2 linked regions of the Homo sapiens genome follow. The protein of the gene in region 1 purifies or fractionates together with the protein of each later gene. This does not show direct contact. Each region holds a gene or a part of one and is shown in the gene's direction. Other genes may lie near its edges. The genes, in order: CT45A5 and SUPT5H.

Evidence for each region.
Region 2: the proteins of CT45A5 (region 1) and SUPT5H purify together in Homo sapiens (affinity purification with mass spectrometry; 2 studies listed by BioGRID). This does not show direct contact.

What each region holds. Positions count from the first base shown.
Region 1 is NC_000023.11:135,781,433-135,791,921, reverse strand, and holds the start of CT45A5 (cancer/testis antigen family 45 member A5), read left to right. Parts: upstream 1-6,418; 5' UTR 6,419-6,685; exon of another isoform or gene 6,686-6,702; intron 6,703-10,186; 5' UTR 10,187-10,192; coding exon 10,193-10,361; intron 10,362-10,489.
Region 2 is NC_000019.10:39,460,472-39,470,898, forward strand, and holds part of SUPT5H (transcription elongation factor SPT5), read left to right. Parts: intron 1-4,326; coding exon 4,327-4,578; intron 4,579-6,008; coding exon 6,009-6,098; intron 6,099-6,203; coding exon 6,204-6,274; intron 6,275-7,750; exon of another isoform or gene 7,751-7,822; intron 7,823-8,284; coding exon 8,285-8,390; intron 8,391-8,607; coding exon 8,608-8,701; intron 8,702-8,790; coding exon 8,791-8,927; intron 8,928-9,647; coding exon 9,648-9,803; intron 9,804-9,905; coding exon 9,906-10,052; intron 10,053-10,427. UniProt on the Homo sapiens protein: Component of the DRB sensitivity-inducing factor complex (DSIF complex), which regulates mRNA processing and transcription elongation by RNA polymerase II.

The sequences.
Region 1 (10,489 bases):
AATGAAATAAAAGAGGACACAAACAAATGGAACAACATTCCATGCTCATGGGTAGGAAGAATCAATATCGTGAAAATGGCCATATTGCCCAGGGTAATTTATAGATTCAATGCCATCCCCATCAAGCTACCAATGACTTTCTTCACAGAATTGGAAAAAACTACTTTAAAGTTCATACGGAACAACTTTCATTTTGGTGGAATCACTTTGGTTTCCCCTGTTGAAAAAATTCCTCAATGTGTAACTAAGTCCTCTAGTCCAGCAGAGCCAAAAGTTGGCTTCTTGGTGCACAGTTTGCTTCTTGAGCATAAGAAGCAACATTTTGTTACTAGATACCCAGGAGTAATAGTGAGAGAAGGCCCACATATTGCCTCCTTCATTCTTGAAGTCATAAATGTGGCTATGGGAGAAATAGTTCCATATACTTGAGGCTAGGATTCAGCTTTGCCACTTTCTAGATTGTCAGCCAAGCCCCACAAGGCACTGCCACAAAGCTGCAATGACAACTCAGGCTTTAAAAGGTCCTCCAATGTTCTATTGAGCCAGCCATTTCAGGATGTTGAAGAACATCACAAGACTAGTGAAGTACATTAGCATGAGCCCATTCCCATACTTCATTGCCTGTAAAGTGAGTTTGATGTTTAAAACTGGTGCAGTGTGGAATACCACGACGGTGGATACAGCCTTTCCTCATACCACAGTACCGATTTCCTTGAAGTTCCATGGGTGGGAATGAAAATCCATATGCAGAATAAGTGTCTATTTGAGGAAGATCAAAGTGATACCCCTTCAATCGTGGAAGCAGACCCAAGTAATCACAGTGCTACCTGGAAGCTGACTGACCACTCTGGGACATGGTGCCATATTGGGGACTCAGTGTTGGTCTCTGCTGCTGTCAGATTGAATAGTGAGCAGTGGCTGTAGTGAGATGGACCTGGTAAATGAAAGTTCATGTTGCCAAACCCGTAAATAAGCTTTATCTCAGCCACCATAATCATGATGCACCATTACTGCTTAGAAGATAGAGGGGTGCACCCAAGTAGGTATGGAGGGGTCTCAGGTAGCTTAGAGTGGCCTCAGCCAAGACCGCAAGTATACGGCTACCTCAGTTCCACAACTTTAAGAAGTTAGACCTGCCCGTAACCCAAATGTGCTTGAAAACAGGTTCTCTCTGAGTCCTTAGTTAGTCAGCAGCCTGGTTGATACCCTAACTTTGATTTTGTGAGATCCTAAGCAGAGAAACCAATCCAGGCTGCATGGATTTCTGATCTACAGAACTGCTTATATATTTGTGTTATTTTAAGCTGCTGAATCGGGGACAATTTCTTTTGCATTAGTAACAAACCTAATAGATGTGGTGCCTGCATATTCTGAAGTAACAAATGAAAATCAGGCATGAAGTTTTTTATTTTCTAGTCAACTGGTCTCAGGGAACTCCACATGAGATCACAGGTGCAGGATTAGGGAAGCTTCTCTTTTTCTGGGCCCCGGTCCATGCTAGCGGGGTTTCAGTCACTTGTCAATGGGTCCACGGTACTGCACAACATTTAGGTATATGCTAAAACAAGCATCTATTATGCAACTCGTTTCATGTTCCTTATTTAGTAGTAAGAAAGGCAAGATGTAAGAACTTGCTGTTCACCTTATAACCACCATCTTGACATGCCAGACTACCAGATTGTTAAACGCTTCACTCAGTTAGAAGGCCCCTGATTTTGTGTGAGAATTATTTCTCACATAATGTCTTGCAAGTGTGTTGCTACCATGTCTGGATTAGTTGCTACCTCCTTTTCAGTCAGCATGATGTCATCACTGCAAAGAATGGTGTCACATCTGGTTTAAGAGAAAGGTGGCCATTTTCCCTAAGAACTCGTTTAGGATATAAACCTAGAGAGTTGATATAAGCTTGAAATAGGAAATGATAGTACATTGCTGTCCTTTCTAGCTGAATTGAAATTCTTGTTTACGACAATTACTGAAAGAAAGCCAAACATTCACCTAATCAGTATTGTATATCAGGTTCCGAGGGATGTCACAGTTGCTGACACAACAAAACCACTTGTAGTACAGCAGCTGCAGTTGGAACAACAATTTGATTAAGTTTATGGTGCAATCTCGGCTCACTGCAACCTCCACCTCCCGGGTTCAAGCAGTTCTCTTGCCTCAGCCTCCTTGTGTAGCTGGGACTATAGAAACGCATTATCACACCTGGCTAATTGTTTGTATTTCTTAGTAGAGACAGAGTTTCACCATGTTGGCCAGGCTAGTCTCAAACTCCTGACCTCAAGTGATATGCCCACCTCAGACTCCCAAAGTGCAAGTGCGAGCCACTGCGCAGGGCCCCAGCTATTTTTTGTATTTTTGGTAGAGATGTGGTTTCGCCACTTTGGCCAGCCTCGTCTGGAACTCCTGACCTCAAGTGATCCACCCGCTTCTGCCTCCCAAATCCTGGGATTACAGGCGTGAGCCACTGTGTCCGGTGAAAACTTCACTTTTAAGTGAAACGCAGAAGCAAAATCTGATAATCAGAAAATGAGATACTGCGTGTTCTCATTCATATGTGGGAGCTAAACAATGGGTACACATGAAAATAAAGGTAGAAACCATTGACTCTGGGGACTCCAAAATGGAGGTAGAGGGGAGGGAGGGAGCGGGTCGGAGGGTTGAAAAACTACCTATTGGATACTCTCTTCACTATTTGGGTGATGAGTTCACTAGAAGCCCAAACCCCGGCACTGTGCAATTATATCCAAGCGAGAAATCTGTACATGTACCCTTCTGGCATCTATAATTTTAAAAAAGCTAACAAAGAAAGCTTCAGTTTTAAATCTTAACCAAATACACAGGAAAAGGATTACTATACTTGGACACCTTTACAGGTTTCTATGTTAGTTTTTGGTATTAAAGCAGAAACCTGTTCCTCGACCACTTTATTAATTGTATGTCCTCTTTGTACAAACATCGGAAATAGAAGACTGTCACTTTTGGTTCTGTAACTGTCTTGACTGCAGTCTTCTACAGCTTTCACAGAGTTAATGGTCCCTAGTATCTGCCATTCTCCAATTGCCCTGGGTGGCGAAATCGCTGCCATAGTAAACTTTTCACTGATAATTAGAGTTTCTGGAAACATGCAGGGCTCGTTATTTAAGAGTGACTCCATTTGGGCATTTTGGTGGATGGCCTACAGGTTTTCTTGCAGAGTATACTAGAGTCTCCAGAATGAATAACCCTAGGAACTTGAGGAACTAGCGCTTTCCAGAATTTTGGAAGCTGAGATACAAACATTGGTTTTCTCAAAAGCACTGCAAGTGGGAAGGAAAATCCATATCTAGACTAAATGTCTGTTCAGGTAAGAAGAAAGCACTTCTCTTTTTATAATAGAAGTGATCTATTGTAATCCACATACCAACTAGTGGCTGGCAGATCATTCTGGAGTCTGGTGCCAAATTGGGGGCTTAGTGTTGGTCTCCATTCCTGGAAGATTTTTCACTCAGCAATGACCGTAGCCAGGTTTGCCATGGTGAGTGGAGGTCCATGCTACTGCGCATAATCTCCAACCCTGCCAGTTTGACCACTTTGTTTGTTGAGCCGGTAAGATTGTGACACACGTGTTAGGGAAAGAGGCTGATTAATACCTAGATAATAAGTACCTTATCCATCTGATTATTAAAATTCTGCTCTGCTGAGGATACCCTTTGCTGAGAACTCTCATGAGACCCCAATATCTTCACATTGTATGTCCGTTTGGACAGGCCTGTCCACATATTTTTTTTTTCTCAGACTTCTTTGTCGCACATTTTTAATCGTGTGTTCTCAAAGTCCCTGACAATTCAGCGAATGAGTGGGACACAGCCTATGCATGATACATACTTACACGTCTGGATATGCCTCCTCCAAGAAGGTGCACTGCTCAAAGTTCTTCCCTCTGGGAGGATTTCCCTTCATCACTGTCCTTCAGGGCTGTCCCAGTCAGGACTGTCGTATGCAGCTGTCCACCTGTGGCTTGTGTGGTAGGCAGGATTCTAATTAAGCCCCAACAAGATTCCAGTCTCATGGTTATTCAATCAAATACTCCTATGAGTACTGCTCTGGTGGGATTTTTTTAATGCAAAAAATGAGTATTTTATTTTGATAGCACTAGAGGAAACAAACAAAACAACTGTTCCTACATCAAAGTGAAAACAATGTTTAAGCTTTCCTATCAATCAAATATATTCCAAAAGAAAATGTGTTCTATGAAGGTTCTGAAGCACAGGCAAATATTAACACAATAGGCTAAGAAGCTGTAATACTGAATATGACTCTCTTCTAACAGGGTACTTAACAAACATAATTTTTAATTTTAATTTTAATTAATTAATTTATTTTGAGACGGACTCTCCCTTTGTCCCCCAGTGACAATGGATCTCTGCCCCTTTGGAGTGCAGTGACGCGATCTCTGCTCACTGAAGCTTGCACCTCTCAGGTTCAAGTGATTCTCCTGCCTCTGCTGCCCTAGTAGCAGGGAGTACAGGTGCCCACCACCATGCCTGGCTATATTTTTTAATTTTAATTTTAAGTTTTTTACAAACATAACTTTTGAATTACAAAACCAGTGAAGTAATCCCTTCCAAATAATTGTGTCAATAGTGAAACTGCCTGTTCCATTAAAACTCGAAAAATTTCGCTGTAATATTTTTTACCACTATGGACAATTCAAGTAAATTTTGCTGCACTTAAAATAAGTTGTGAAAGTAGAAAAATGGGCCGGGCATGGTGGCTCTCCCCTGTAATCCCAGGACTTTGGGAGGCCAAGGCAGATGAATCACTTAAAGTCAGGAGTTTGAGACCAGCCTGGAGAACATTGTGAAACACCGTCTCTGCTAAAAATACAAATACCAGCCGGGCATGGTGGTACATGCCTGTAATCCCAGCTTCTCGGGAGGCTGAGGAAGGAGAACTGCTTGAACCTGGGAGGCGGAGGTTGCAGTGAGCCAAGATCATGCCACTGCACTCCAGCCTGGGTGACAGAGCCAGACTGTCTCAAAAAAAATAAAAAAGGTGGAAAAATATACAAAGTTCCAGATTAAAATGATTAATAGATGCAATATAATAAGGTTTCCCCTCCTTCCATCCTTTCTTTCTTTCTCTCTTTCTTTCTTCCTTTCTTCCCTTCTTTCTTCCATCCTTCCTTTCTTCCTTTCTTCCCTTCTTTCTTCCATCCTTCCTTTCTTCCTTCCTTTCTTTCTTTCGTTCTTTCTTTCCTTCCTTCCTTCTTTTTTCTTTCTCTTTCTTTCTTTCTTTCTCTCTTTCTTTCTCTCTTTCTTTTTTTTTGTAGACAGTCTTACTCTGTCACCCAGGCTATAGTGCAATGGTGCGAACAAAGGTCAATGCAGCCTCAACCTCCTGGTGTCAAGCCTCCCGAGCAGCTGGGACCACAGTTACACGCTCAGCTAATTTTTGTATTTTGTGTTAAGATGGGGTTTCACCATGCTGCCCAGGCTGCTCTTGAACTCCTGGGCTCAAGGAATCCACCCCTCTTGGTCTCCCAAATTGCTGGGATTACAGACGTGAGCGACCGCACTGGGGCCCTCATTTTTCTTATCAATTAACAATAATGGTTACCTTTAACAGATAGAGGTTGACTTTATTTATTGATTGATTGATTTTTATTTTTAGACAGAGTCTCACTCTGTTACCCAGGCTGGAGTGCAGTGGCATGATCTCAGCTCACTGCAAATTCTGCCTGCCCGGTTCAAGCGATTCTCCAGCCTCAGCCTCCCAAGTAGCTGGTGGGATTATAGGTGCATGCCACCACGCCCGGTAATTTTCTGTATTTTTAGCAGAGACGGGATTCACCATGTTGGTCAGACAGACTGGTCTCGAACTCCTGACCTCAGGTGGTCCAGCCCCTTCGGCCTCCCAAAGTGTTGAGATTACAGGCGTGAGCCACTGTGGCGGGTCGGGGTTGACTTTAAAACACAACCCCCTCAAATGAAAATTGCAGTTTGTTGTTGTTCTTTTTCTTTTTCTTTTCTTTTCCTTCTTTCTTTCTTTTTTTTTTTTTTTCTGAGATGGGGTCTCCTCTACCGCCTGGGCTGGAGTGCAGTGGCTCACTGCTACCTCCACCTCCCGGGTTCAAGCCATCCTCCCACCTCAACTTCCCGAGTAGTTGGGACCACAGGTGCGAGGCCACTAGGCCCAGCTAATTTGTGTGTTTCTTTCTTTCTTTCTTTCTTTTTTGATTAGTTGGTTGCTTTGTAGAGCCGGGGTCTCACTATGTTACCCAGGCGATTTCATCCCGCTGGGTGAGAAGGTTCTGCATTCCTCCGCATACGTTGCTGTGCAGTTGTTACTGAAGGTCGCCTGTAGAGGGCGCCAGAGTCAGCGAAGGGGAGGGCTGCGCTTCCTGGTTCTCTGGGGCACGAGGCTTCTCCTCAGCACTCTGGCGCCCCCAACAGGTTCCCAGTGTTCGGCTGGGGCAGGCACGCTGTGGCTGGCTACTTCCCTTCCTCCCATCCCCCTTGGGCCAAACGGGATCGGTGCTTCTGGTGAGACGCCTCCCCATGCACATCACTCCCAGGTGCCCTAGGGGGCACATTTCCCACAACTCCCAGAGGGCAGGTTTCTAGAAAGTGCCACCAGTGGGGAGGCGCCACAACTTCACTGCCATTTTGTGAGGTGCCGCCGTCTCTCCTCCAGCAAGGTCAGGACTTCAGGACTGTGAGTGGGCAGTTTTTCCCTGGATGCTTTAATTTCGCCCTGGAAAGTGTCCTTTTTCCTCAGAAAGAGTCTTTTCTGTGGTGTTCTCTGTCCGGTGTGTGGGAGGGCTCCCTTGGGGAAGTGGCTTAGCTCTGGGGACACCGCCATGGGCGCCTGTGTCAGCCGCGGGGGAGCGTTTTCCTTGGGCACCCCGTCTCGGCTATGTTGTGGGGCCAGGGGGCTTTTCTTGGGGGCTCTTGTTGGGGGCTCCCTGTCGGTGATGGAAAAGGCGACTTTTCCTGCTGAAATGACCTGAGCCCGGGGGGTGGGGGCCATGCCTTGGTTGCCTGTGTCGGCCTCGGGTGCGGCGGTGTTTCTTTCCCGCTCAGTCGCTGTCCTGAGGGGGGACTCTGCCCTGGGGTCACTATCTGTGCTCATGGAACGTGGTGGGGGTGGCTGTGCCCCGGACACATGATCGTAGCCCTGTGGGGTCACTGTCGGGGGCTTTATCTCAACCTCTGGTGGACTCTTCCTTGGGTACTGATGTCGGCCGTGAGGCGCATTTGTCCTCGGATGTTGCTCGCTCTCAGTTACAATGTGTTGGCTTTTCTTTGGTTCTGCTTATCCCCGTTGTGGACGCTTACTGGATGCTTTCTCTTGGTGCTGGGTTTTTAAAATTATTATCTGTAGGTGCTCTCTCCCGGTGCCGCCGGGGAGTGGGGTAATGTTCCTTGGATTCTCTAAGCCTATGGTGGGACTCAGGGAGCTCTGTGTCAGCCATGAAGGAGGCCACGTGACCTTGGGAACTCTGTCTCGACCCAGGTTGGGGTGCTTTTCCTCGGTTGGTTGATCGCAATTCTGAAGGAGCTCTTTCCTGGGATTCTATCTGACCTTTCAGCCACAGCCTCAGGTGTCTGTGTGGGAATGGGAGTCCAGAAATATTCGAAGGTTCCAGCTGTGCCACATTCGAACACTCGCAGTACAGTTAGTCTTTCATTCCAGCCACTCTGATGGGTGTGCAGTGATCTCTCCTTGTGTCTACACTCGCATTTCTCTGCTGATTAATGAGATCGAGCACCTTTTTAAGAAATTGTTTTTATTTATTGATTTTTGTTTGTCTTTTGAGATGAGGTCTCCCTCTGTCACCCAGACTGGATTGCAGTGCCACCACACCCAGCTATTTATTGTTTTCTTTTTTTTTTTTTTTTAGCACCATTTTATGTGTTTATTGGTCATTTAACTATGCCTTTTATGAAGTTCCTTTTCAGGTATTTTCCCCCAGCTTTTACTGAGATGTTTGTATTTTAAAAATGGATTTGTAGTTTCCATATATTCTGTATTTGAGTTATACGCACAGGCACACAGGCGTATATGTACATATACAAAAATACATATACAATTTTAGTATCTTCTATAAATCTTTTTTGCTTTTACACGATCTCAATAATGTGTTGTAGATGAACAGATTCTCTTAATTTTATTAATTAGTGTATTATTTATGGATAGTGCTTTTTATTATTTTAAGAAACATCTTTGACTCACCCAATGCCATTACGATAATATTCCTTTTCTTAAAATTATACTTTAAGTTCCGGGATACATGGGCAGAACGTGCAGGTTTGTTACATAGGAAGACACATGCCATGGTTGTTTGCTGCACCCATTGACCCGTCATCTACCTTAGGTATTTCTCTAATGCTATCCCTCCCCTAGCCCCCCAACCCCTGACAGGCCCCACTGTGTGATGTTCTTCTCCCCGCGTCCATGTGTTCTCATTGTTCAACTCCCACTTATGAGTGAGGACACGTGGTGTTTGGTTTTCTGTTCCTGTGTTAGCTTGCTGACACATGTCCCTTCAAAGGACATGAACTCATTCTTTTTTATGGCTGCATAGTATTCCGTGGTGTATATGTACCACATTTTCTTTATCCAGCGTCGTGGCAGGCGCCCGTAATCGCAGCTACTCAGGAGGCTGAGGCAGGAGAATTGCTTGAACCTGGGAAGTGGAGGTTGCAGTGAGCAGAGACTGTGCCACTCCACTGCAGCCTGGGTGACAGAGCGAGGCTCCGACTCAAAAAAAAAAAAAAATGTCTTCCAATGCATGGAAAGAAAATTTTTCTCCATTTACTGCAGTCTTGAATTTCTCTGAGTGATGTTTTATAATTTTTGTGAAGTACTCTAGCACATCTTGATTAGATTTATTCCTAAATATTTGATGTTTTTGGAACTGTTTTTAATGACATTTGAAATCTCATATTCTAATTATTCGTTATACAGAATTGCCATTCTGTATAATGCCATTCATTATACAGAATTGCTATTCATTATACAGAAATGCCATTGGTTTTCATTGTATCTAGTAAGTTGACTAAATTTGCTTATTAACTGTAATGATTTTATTCTTCTGCATTTTTCTATGTACAGAACAATGTCATCTGTGAATAATGACAGTTTTATTTCTTTCCAAATTTTAAACCTATTGTATTTTCCTGATGATATGGCACTTTTTGGAACCTCCAGTAAATTGTTGAATGGATAGTGGACATCTTTGTCTTGTTTTCAAACTCAGGGAGAAAATACTGATACGTCACTATGAAGTATGGCATTTAAAAATTTTTTGTACATATGCTAACCAGAATAGGAAAGTTGCCCTTTTTCCTAAGTTGGTGATAGTTTTTATCACGAATGGACTTTAAACATTGATCCATGTATGAAAATGATCATGCGGTGTTTCCCTGTTTTTGTTGTTGTTGTTGTTGTTGTTGTTAATGTGGTGCACTACATTTGTCGATTTTCAAATGTTAAATCAGTGTTGCCTTTCTGCAATATACTCCACCATGGCTGATGTATGTCCTTTTTAAGTACTAGTACATTTTATTTGCTCACCCTTAGTTTGGAATTTTTGTGTCTAAGTTCGGGGTGATCTTGGCTTGTATTTTTGGCTTGATCTTGTAGTTTTTCATTCTTCTAAATTCCTTGTCAGATGTTGTTATCAGTTTTGTATCAATCTTCTAATAAGGGTTCCTAATAAGGGTTAATACACGTTGGTTTATGCATCTATTTGAATATATAAGCATAAATACTTATATATTAAATATATATGATATATAATATATAATTTAAAATATAATGTATAATAAGGGTTAATACAGATTGGTTTATACATCCATTTTTTCTAATAAGGGTTAATACAGATTGGCTTATACATCTTCAAATAGGTAATAATATTTTTATCTATTTTTGGTTGATGACAGCTGCTTATTCCACAAGCATTCTGATTGATTTGGTTATACCATCTTTCTTCTGTTTTACTTTGTGTACATTAAAATTAGGTTTCTTTTCCTGAGAACAGAGTGTTTGTTGAGACTTGGTAAATCTTGGCTCATGATTAAAAGTGAAATTAATGATTCAAAGTCTTGGTTGTATACACATATGCAGATTGCTTGCCATTTTGTGATTGTTAGATTTTTGTCATGAATAGAATATATTCATTGATGTTTTTCAGGAAACAATGACCGATAAAACAGAGAAGGTGGCTGTAGATCCTGAAACTGTGTTTAAACGTCCCAGGGAATGTGACAGTCCTTCGTATCAGAAAAGGCAGAGGATGGCCCTGTTGGCAAGGAAACAAGGAGCAGGAGACAGCCTTATTGCAGGCTCTGCCATGTCCAAAGAAAAGAGTAAGTAAGCCTGTCCTCACGTCCTCCTCATGCTCCTGCCTCATCCCCTCCAGAGAAACTGTCCTTGTCAAGGTTAACAGTTTCGGCTGACATTGCCATTAACTTCTCAGCAGCATTTGACAGTTGTT
Region 2 (10,427 bases), on another chromosome or scaffold:
ATTCACCTGTAATACCAGCACTCTGGAAGGCTGAGGCAGGCAGATCACTTGAGGTCAGGAGTTTGAGACCAGCCTGGCCAACGTGGTGAAACCCCGTCTCTACTAAAAATACAAAACTCAGCTGGGCGTGGTGGTGCACACCTGTAGTCCCAGCTACTTGGGAAGCTGAGGCAGAATCACTTGAACCCAGGAGGCAGAAGTTGCGGTGAGCCGAGATCGCATCACTGCACTCCAGTGTGACAAAAAAAAGGATTAGGTGGCTTTATGTCCAGCTCTCAGCTAGGACTTGTTCTGCAGCTTGCATTTACTTAGCAGAGCTGTTGTCAAAGGCTTCATTGGCAGTTTGGGAACCAGGGCAAACGCTATGAAGGGTGCTGGCTGGTAACTTTCTCAGTTAACATGATCCCTGCTAGGGATCATGCTTTCACCTGTCCAGCCACTGGGTGTGACCCAGTGGGACCAAGTAGACAGTTGTAGGGTTTGCAAACTATGCTTTTAAATGTGCTCAAATGTCCTCCTCAAAGGCCGGCCATGGTGGCTCATGCCTGAATCTCCAGCACTTAGGGAGGCTGAGGTGGGTGGATCACGAGGTTAGGAGTTCGAAACCAGCCAGTTTGAGACCAGCCTGGCCAACATGGTGAAACCTTGTCCCTACCAAAAATACAAAAATCAGCTGGGCATGGTGGTGCTTGACTGTAATCCCAGCTACTTGGGAGGCTGAGGCAGGAGAATCACTTGAATCTAGGAGGCAGAGGTTACAGTGAGCCAAGACTGCGCTATTGCACTCCAGCCTGGGCGACAGAGTGAGACTCCGTCTCGGGGTGGGTAGGGGGTGGAATGTCTTCCTCATTATTATAGTAATAAGTGTCCCTGCCTGTCATGGGTGAGATTGGGATTTGTGGGGTATGATTCCCCAACAGGGAGGTTGAAAAGGTACCTTTTGGCTAGGTGTGGTGGCTAATGTCTGTAATACCAGTATTTTGGGAGGCTGAGGCAAAAGGAGTTCGAGGCCAGCCTGGACATCATAGTGACATAGTGACAACTGATTTCTACAAAGAAAATAATAATAGGCCGGGCGCGGTGGCTCACGCCTGTAATCCCAGCACTTTGGGAGACTGAGGCGTGTGGATCACCTGAGGTTAAGAGTTCGAGACCAGCTTCACCAGCATGGTGAAACTCCGTCTCTACCAAAAATACAAAAGATTAGCCAGGGGTGGTGGTGCATGTCTATAATCCCAGCTACTTGGGAGGCTGAGACAGGAGAATTGCTTGAACCCAGGAGTTGGAGGTTGTAGTGAGCCAAGCTCGTGCCACTGCACTCCAGCCTGGGCAACAGAGCGAGACTGTCTCAAAAAAAAAAAAAAAAAAATAATAATAATAATAATTAAAAGAAGTGTGCTCAAATCCTCCTACATGGTACCCTGGGGTAAAATTCTAGTTACTTCATTTGAGTTATGTCTCTGATTATTATTTTTTTTTGAGACGGAGTTTCACTCTTGTTGCCCAGGCTGGAGTGCAATGGTGTGGTCTCGGCTCACTGCAACCTCTGCCTCAGCCTCCCGAGTAGCTGGGATTATAGGCATCCGCCACCATGCCCGGCTGATTTTTTTGTATTTTTAATAGAGACGGGGTTTCACCATGTTGGCCAGCCTGGTCTTGAACTCCTGGCTCAAGTGATCCACCCGCCTTGGCCTCCCAAAGTGCTGGGATGGCAGTTCTGAGCCACTGTGCCCAGCCTAAAATTTAATTTTTTTAAAGTGTAAACTGTGGTGGATTTTATATATTGTAGTGTATTCATAACCATCATCACCATCTAATTCCAGGACATTTTCATTATCCCAAAAATAAACCGATACCCATTAGTCATCACTCCCCATTCCTCCCTCCTCACAGCTCCTGGTAACTATGAATCTACCTTCTTTCTCTGTGGATTTGACTATTGGAACTCTGAATGGTTCATACAAAGGGAATCATACAATATGTCGCCTTTCGTGACTGACTTGCTTCACTTAATGTTTTCAAGACTCATCCATATTGTAGCATATATCAAGACTTCATTTTTTTGTTTGTTTTTTTGAGATGGAGTTTTACTCTTCTTGCCCAGGCTAGAATGTAATGGTGCAGTCTTGGCCCACTGCAACCACTGCCTCCCAGGCTCAACTGATTCTCCTGTCTCAATCTCCCAAGTAGCTGGGATTACAGGCACCCGACACCACGCCTGGCTAATTTTTGTGTTTTTAGTAGAGATAGGGTTTCAGCATGTTGGCCAGGCTGGTCTCGAACTCCTGACCTCAGGTGATCGGCCCACCTCGGCCTCCCAAAGTGTTGGGATTACAGGCGTGAGCCACTGTGCCCAGCCTTAATTTTCTTTTTTTTTTTTTTTTTTGAGACAGAGTCTCGCACCGTTGCCCAGGCTGGAGTGCAATGATGCGATCTCGGCTCACCGCAACCTGCACCTCCCGGGTTCAAGCGATTCTCCTGCCTCAGCCTCCCAAGTAGCTGGGATTACAGGCACCCACCACCATGCCCAGCTAATTTTTTTTTTTTTTTTTTTTTTGGTATTTTTAGTAGAGATGGGGTTTCACCATGTTGGCCAGGCTGACCTTGAACTCCTGACCTCAGATGATCCACCCCTCAGCCTCCCAAAGTGCTGGGATTACAGGCATGAACCCACTGCGCCTGGCCAACCGGCCTTAATTTTTGTATTTTTAGTAGAGGCAAGGTTTCACCATGTTGGCCAGGCTGGTATTGAACTCCCGACCTCAAGTGATCCTCCTGCCTCGGCCTCCCAAAGTGCTGGGATTACAGGCATGAGCCACCGCTCCTGGCCTTTTTTTTCTTTTAGTTGGTATTTACAGCTATACATTTACTTCTAAGCATGGCTTTTTTCAAATCTCATAAGTTTTGGTATCTAGGAGTGTGTTGCCATGTATTTGTGAATTTCCTAAGTATCTTTCTGTTGGTTTTTAACTTCATTACATATGGATGGAGAATATACTTTATATGATTTTAGTTCTTTTATGTTTACTGAGACGTGTTTTATGGCCTAACCTGTGGTTTATTCTGGAAAGTTTAATATGCCCTTGAGAAGAAAGTGCATTCTGCTGTTGTTAGATGGAGTGTTCTTTTTTCCCATTTCCGCTTAATAAGTGGAAAGTGAAGACGAAATGTTCTGTCTATAGCTGGCTATTAGGTTTAGGTGGCTTACAGTGTTGCTCAAGTGTTCTCTTTCCTTGTTGATCTTGGGTCTAGCTCTATCCATGATTGAAAGCAGGGTATTGCAGTCAGTGATTGTTACTGTTGAGTTGTCAGTTTCTTCCTTCATTTTCATTAGTTTCTGCTTCATGTATTTTGAGGCTCTGTTAGTTTCATATACATTTGTAATTCTATCTTCCTGATGGATTGACCTTTTTATTGTTACAAAATGTTTTTTGTTGTCTCTGGTAGCAATTTTTGTCTTAAAGTATATTTTGTCTGATGTAAGCACTCCTTTCTTGGTTCTTCTTCTAGTTGCTTTTTTTTTTTTTTTGAGACGGAGTTTTGCTCTTATTGCCCAGACTGGAGTGCAATGGTGCGATCTCAGCTTACCGCAACCTCCACCTCCCGGGTTCAAGCGACTCTTCTGCCTCAGCCTCCCGTGTAGCTGGGATGACAGGCATGTGCCACCACACCCGGCTAATCTTGGATATTTTTAGTAGAGACAGGGTTTCTCCGTGTTGGTCAGGCTGGTCTTGAACTCTTGACCCCAAGTGATCCACCCGCCTCGGCCTCCCAAAGTGCTGGGATTACAAGCATGAGCCACCGTGCCCGGCTCTAGTTGCTTTTTTACACAGAACATATGTTGGATAGCTTTCTATATTAGTACATACAGGTTAATCTAATTTTTATTTTATTTTTTATTTTTAAGAGACAGGGTTTCACTCTGTTGCCCAGGCTGGAGTGCAGTGGTGCGATCTCAGCTCACTGCAGCCTCAACCTCCCGGGCTCAAGCAGTCCTCCCTGCTCAGCCTCCTGAGTAGCTGGGACTACAGGCATGTGCCATCACACCCAGCTAGTTTTTGTATTCTTTAACTGCAACATTGTATTTCATGGTACATTAAGCCATAAGTTAACTAGTTACTGTTTCTGGATATTTTTAAAATTTTTAGTCTGGTTTGTTTGCTGTGATAAATAATTCTGCAGGGAACACCTTTGTGTCCATGTCATTGTGCCAGTGTGTTTCTGTGGAATAAATTCCTAGAAGAGGGACTGCTGATGAGTGGCAGTCATTTCTGTTATTAGCCGTTGTGTCTCACTGTTTCCTCCTTCCACCGGCTCACCCTGCAGCCCCTGCAGATCAAGTCAGTAGTGGCACCAGAGCATGTGAAGGGCTACATCTACGTGGAGGCCTACAAGCAGACCCACGTGAAGCAGGCCATTGAGGGGGTGGGCAACCTGCGGCTTGGCTACTGGAACCAGCAGATGGTGCCCATCAAGGAGATGACAGACGTGCTCAAAGTGGTGAAGGAGGTGGCCAACCTGAAACCAAAGTCCTGGGTCCGCCTCAAGCGGGGCATCTACAAGGATGACATTGCTCAGGTGCCCGGGGCGGGGTGGCATGGGGGTCAGGGTCCCTCCATTCTGTTCTCCCTTCCTTTCCTTTTGTCCTTCCCACCCTCTTTGTGCTGCAGAGAATAGAATCCCACTCAGATGAGTTGAAGCAGAGCCTGGGTTTTGTGAGCACACAGGAAACGGTTGGCTGTCTTCTGTGCACATTCCCAGGCGTGTTGAGTAAAGGTCTGAAGGATCGGAGGGCGTGAGGCATGTGGAGCTCTTGGGGAGGAGTGTTGTAGGCAGCAGGAGTGGCCTGTGAGATAGGATGGCACAGTCACTGGCTACAGCAGGGATGGCGTGAGATGAGTTAGGGAGCTCACGAGGGCCTGCGGCCCATTGGAGAGCTTTGGTGTTTACTGGCGTAGGATGGGAGGGCTGTAAGGGACACAGGCAGACTTCAATGTTAATAAGATTTCTCTGGTGACTGTGTTGAGACTAGACCACTGGTTCTCAAGCCAGGGTGATGTTTCCCCAGGGGACATTTGGTAACGTCTGGAGACATTTTTGGTTATGTCAGCTGGGGAGGGGGTTGACGATTATGGCATCTAGCAGGTTAAAGCCAGAAATGCTAGACACACACATCCTCCAATGCACAGGATGGCTGCCCACAACAAAAAATTACCTGGCCCAAAAAGTCAATAGTGCCAAGGCTGAGAAACCCGGGAATAGCCTGGAGGGGGCCATGGGCAAGAGCGTGGAGACCAGGGAGGAGGCTGCTGCTGTAGCACATCCCACCCAGATGGCAGTGCTGGTGGGATAGGACCAAGACCCTAATACACGTTGAGTGTCTCTAACCTGAATTCTTGAGACCACAGGTGTTTTTCAGATTTCAGATTTTTTCAGCTTTTGGAATATTTGCATTATACTTACCGGTTGAGCATCCCAAATCTGAAAATCCAAGAGTGAGCATTTCCTTCGAGCATCATGTTGGTGCTCACAGGGTTTCCTATTTTTGAGCATTTTGGGTTTTTGGATTTGGAATGCTGAGACTGCAGTGGAGGAGGGGAAGAGGTCAGGTATTTTGAAGGCAGAGCTGATGGAATTTGCCAACGGGTCGGGTGTGGGTGTAAGAGAAACAAAGGAGTCAAGAGTGGCTCCCAGGTTGTGTGCCTGAGCAGAGGGAAGAATGGAGTGGGAGGCGGCAGGTTTGGGGGAATCAGCGGTTTGGCTGCGGTCGTCCTGGATTTGAGGGACCTTTAGACATCCAGGTGGAGATACCAAGCAGGCAGTGGCTACTCAGTGCCAGAGTTGAGGGGACAGACAAGCTAGCGTGGGACTTTTGGGAGTGGTCAGCAGCCTGGTTTCTTCCCCACCATCCTGCGTCCCTTCTCCTTCCTAGCATCTCCTGACCCTTCTTGTGTCTGGGGTCAGGGAGGAGAGTGGGGCCCTGCTGACCTTCTGCTCGCCCTGCTCAGGTGGACTACGTGGAGCCCAGCCAGAACACCATCTCCCTGAAGATGATCCCACGCATCGACTACGATCGCATCAAGGCCCGCATGAGCTTGGTACTCAGGGGAATCTGTGGCCTGGGGGGGAGGGAGTGTGCTCGATCCCACTGGTGGCCAAGCCCCCTCCCTCACCCTTCCCACCCATGCCCCTTTCCTCCATAGAAAGACTGGTTTGCCAAAAGGAAGAAGTTTAAGCGGCCTCCACAGAGGCTGTTTGATGCTGAGAAGATCAGGTGCGTGTCCTTGGGGACTGGCTGGGCTGGGTCCCCAGGGCCGGTGTGTAGAATGTGCCTTTTGCAGGTTCCTCCCCAGGGGTGGCCCCGCCACAGGTTTAGCCTGTGAATTGGTTAGCTTGGCAGTATAGCCTCAGGCAAGTCACTTCACATCCCTGTGCCTCAGTTTCTTCTGCTATAAAGATTGATGAGGCTGGGCGCAGCGGGAGGGAGCACTTTGGAAGGCTAAGGCAGGAGGCTTGCTTGAGGCAAGGAGTTCGAGACCAGCCTGGGCAACATAATGAGATCCCATCTTTTAAAATAATAATAATAATAAAAAGAAAAAAGTTAAAAAAATATTTAAAAAGATTGATGAGGCTGGGCGTGATGGCTCACACCTATAATCCCAGCGCTTTGGGAGGCCGAGGCGGGCGGATCACTTGAGGTCAGGAGTTCAAGACCAGCCTGGCCAACATGGTGAAACCTTGTCTCTACTAAAAATACAAAAATTAGCCAAGGGTTGTGGTCAGCTCCTGTAATCCAAGCTACTTGGGAGGCTGAGGCAGGAGAATCGCTTAAACCCACGAGGCAGAAATTGCAGTGAGCCGAGATCGTGCCACTGCACTCCAGCCTGGGTGACAGAGCGAGACTCCGTCTCAAAAAAAAAGAAAACAACCTCTGCTTCCTCAGATTATAGATTATAGTGAGAATTAAATAAATTAGTATGCATATGTACTCAGAATGCCCTTGGCACGTAGTAAGTGTGATCCATGGTGTGATATATTGAAATGGGATTCATGGACTATGTCAGGCTTTAGAAAGTCTCCTTTCCTGATCTGCTTATGCCCACTTGAGATGGGGGGGTATGGAGTGCCTTTCCCTCAGGATGCCCCCCAGACTCCCTAGCTGGGTAGAGAATTGGAGCAGCCCAGGAATTTCAACATCCCAGGGCCAACTGGGGGCTCCGGCAGGGAGGGCAGGAGAGGAGGACATGGAGAAACGAGAGGTGCCAGTGACACTCTTCCCTCTGGTCCTGTTCTAGAACTAATTGTGTGTGATTCAGCCAGTCAGGTTTTCCTTCAGATAAAGGAAGAGCTGTGGAATGCACCTTTGAGTCTGCACCCAAGGGCCTTGCTAATACTTCACCTGCCTGAGTTCGGACCCATTTATACCACTGGTTTCGACTCACCTGAACCTCTCTTTGCAAAGAACAAACCCTAGTGCTCCCTTACCCCCCAGCAAGCCAGCTGACCAAGTACCCCAGCATGCCCAGCAGAGCATGCTGGCCCCTCTCCCAGATTCACCATGGGAGAAGGCGATTGCATGAGCGCAGGAGGAACTTGACCTGCTCCTCCATGAAGGAGGCTCCTTCCCCACCCCGGAGACTCGGAACAGGCACTAAGCGGCCGCCACTCCACATTTGGGGCCGGGAGCTGCAGGCTTGGGAGTCCCACCTGCCTGCTTTTGAATCCTGTCAAGACTGTGGCTTGGCACCCTTGGGCATGTGATGTGACCTTCCTGAGCCTGCATTCCCTCACCTGGAAATGATGAGCAGTTACTGATGCCACAGATTTGGGGAAGAGCCTGTGAGGTCATGAGTGTGCAGGCCAGGCTGAGCGCTCTGCGAATATTCACTGGTATCATTGTCTGAAACTGTTATTTTGTTCAGCTAATGTTTACTGCATACTTTCTGTGTACTGGGCACTATTCTTGGTGAAATTTAGTGAATGTTACATCCCTGACCTTCTGGAGCTGACATGCTAGTTAGGGGGACAGGTCAAACACTAGATTGTCAGATGGTGATCGGTGCTCAAAGATAAATCAGGGAATGGGTGGAGGAGTGCAGGGAGGTGGGAGGCGGGCCTTTGGGGTTTGTGAGAAGTCACTGCTGCCAAGAGGGTGTGTGCTGGGATGGGATGGGTCAGTCTGCCTGTGGTCCTCTCCTTCTGTTGCCAGCTGAGAAGACTGAGGTACAGCAAGATTTTCTTCTTGACTCTCCCTTCTAATCTTCTCTCCCCCATCAAATTCCAGGTCCCTGGGGGGTGATGTTGCCTCTGATGGTGACTTCCTCATCTTTGAGGGGAACCGTTACAGCCGGAAGGGCTTTCTGTTCAAGAGCTTCGCCATGTCTGCTGTGGTGAGGGTCCCAGAGGGGTGTTGGTAATGGGGGTGGTGTGAGTGTTCTCCTGCAGGTGATGCCCTGGGCTGTGGGTTATCTGGTTCTGTCCCACTCCTCAAGTTAGGAGTGTTCCCTAGGAGAATTATTCCCCTAGGACCCACTCAGCCCACTCAGCTGGGCTGTTGCACTGACCTCGGTCCATTTCCTTCTCTTCCCCTCACCGCTGGGGGCTTAGATCACGGAGGGTGTGAAGCCAACACTCTCTGAGCTGGAAAAGTTTGAGGACCAGCCAGAGGGCATTGACCTGGAGGTGGTGACTGAGAGCACAGGTATTTGATCCCCCTCTATAACCTGGGCCAAGGAGCAGGGGCGGCCCATGGTGGCAACCCCCGAGTCAGCCCTACGACTGCCCCTGCAGGGAAGGAGCGGGAGCACAACTTCCAACCTGGGGACAACGTGGAGGTCTGTGAGGGTGAGCTCATCAACCTGCAGGGCAAGATCCTCAGCGTGGATGGCAACAAGATCACCATCATGCCCAAGCATGAGGACCTCAAGGTGGGTGCCCGGTGTTCTCGGGCAGGGGTTGGAGTGTTCAGGCACATCTGACTGTATGTGGCTGTCGAGGCGGTGGTGTGCCTGGTGACACCTGGTTTCCAGGAGGGTAAGTTGAGGCCCTTCTAGCATTCTCAGGTGCCTGAGAGGCTCTGTCTGAGTGCAGCTCAGGGTCGGTGGGCAGCAGGCCTGCCTGGTGGTGTCTGTCTCTGGAGAGTGACTTGGTCTATCTTTTGTTTCTGAAAAGCAAGATATCTGGGTAGTACTGGGTTGAGAGTGTGATTAACCAAGGAGTAATCTGAGGCTTGACTTTGTTTGCTTAGAGCGGGGTGTGTGTTTGTCTGTGTCTGGTGTATGTCTGAGGGGTTGTGCAGGCCCAGTGTGATGTGTGGGGTGAGGCTGTCTCCGGGTGGGGCTGAGGAGCTGTCCAGTCGGGGGTCCTGTGTCTGAGGGGCAGGCTCTCTGTGTGGGTATAGGTAGGCATCGTGTGTCTTGAGGGCGGGCTGGGGTAAAGGTTGTCCAGGTTGGTGTCCTGTGTCTGGGGTCAGCTGTTTCTGGGGCAGTCTGAGGGGTCGTCCAGGTGGACTAAGGTAGTCTGGGGTGGGTGGTAAGAGCCTGAAGTGGGGTTTTTGAGAACATGCGTAGATTCTGAAGACAGGAGGGGCAGGCAGGTTGTGGTGGTCTCCCTTCACCTGTTTGTTGTCCCCACACCCAATCCCCCAGGACATGTTGGAGTTCCCAGCCCAGGAACTTAGAAAATACTTCAAGATGGGGGACCACGTGAAGGTGATTGCTGGCCGATTCGAGGGCGACACAGGCCTCATTGTGCGGGTGGAGGAGAATTTCGTTATCCTGTTCTCTGACCTCACCATGCATGAGGTAGGTGGATAGAAGGGTCGGGGAAGGGTGCACGTGCCAAGAGGAGACCCAGGTAGGCGAGCCACCTGGACTGGGCCTCACCCCTTTCACCATCCCTGGCAGCTGAAGGTGCTCCCCCGGGACCTGCAGCTCTGCTCAGAGACAGCATCAGGTGTGGATGTTGGGGGCCAGCATGAATGGGGCGAGCTGGTGCAGCTGGATCCCCAGACTGTGGGTGTCATCGTGCGACTAGAACGGGAGACCTTCCAGGTGTGTGTGTTGTGCTCTGTGGCGGGGACTTGCTTTTAGGAGGCTTCCTGTCCCTCAACCCCTCATCCTGGGAGGTGGCAGAGCCCCCAGACTGCTCTGGGTTGCAGATCTGGCTCTGTCACTTACATCTGAATGGCTGATAGTGGGCACATGGCAAGTCATTGATCCCTCCCCTTGCCTGTTTTCACACCCTATAAAATGGAAACGAGAGCAGCGTCTACTTTGTTCATAGTGAATGATTCCCTGAGGTTAGATCTGTACCCTGGTGGCTGTTGCTCGCTCAAGGATGGAGTGCCACATGTGCCCTCCTGCCTTTGCTCCTTCCTCATGGATGTGGGAGTCATGGAGCACAGTACTTAGGATCCTGGACTCCAC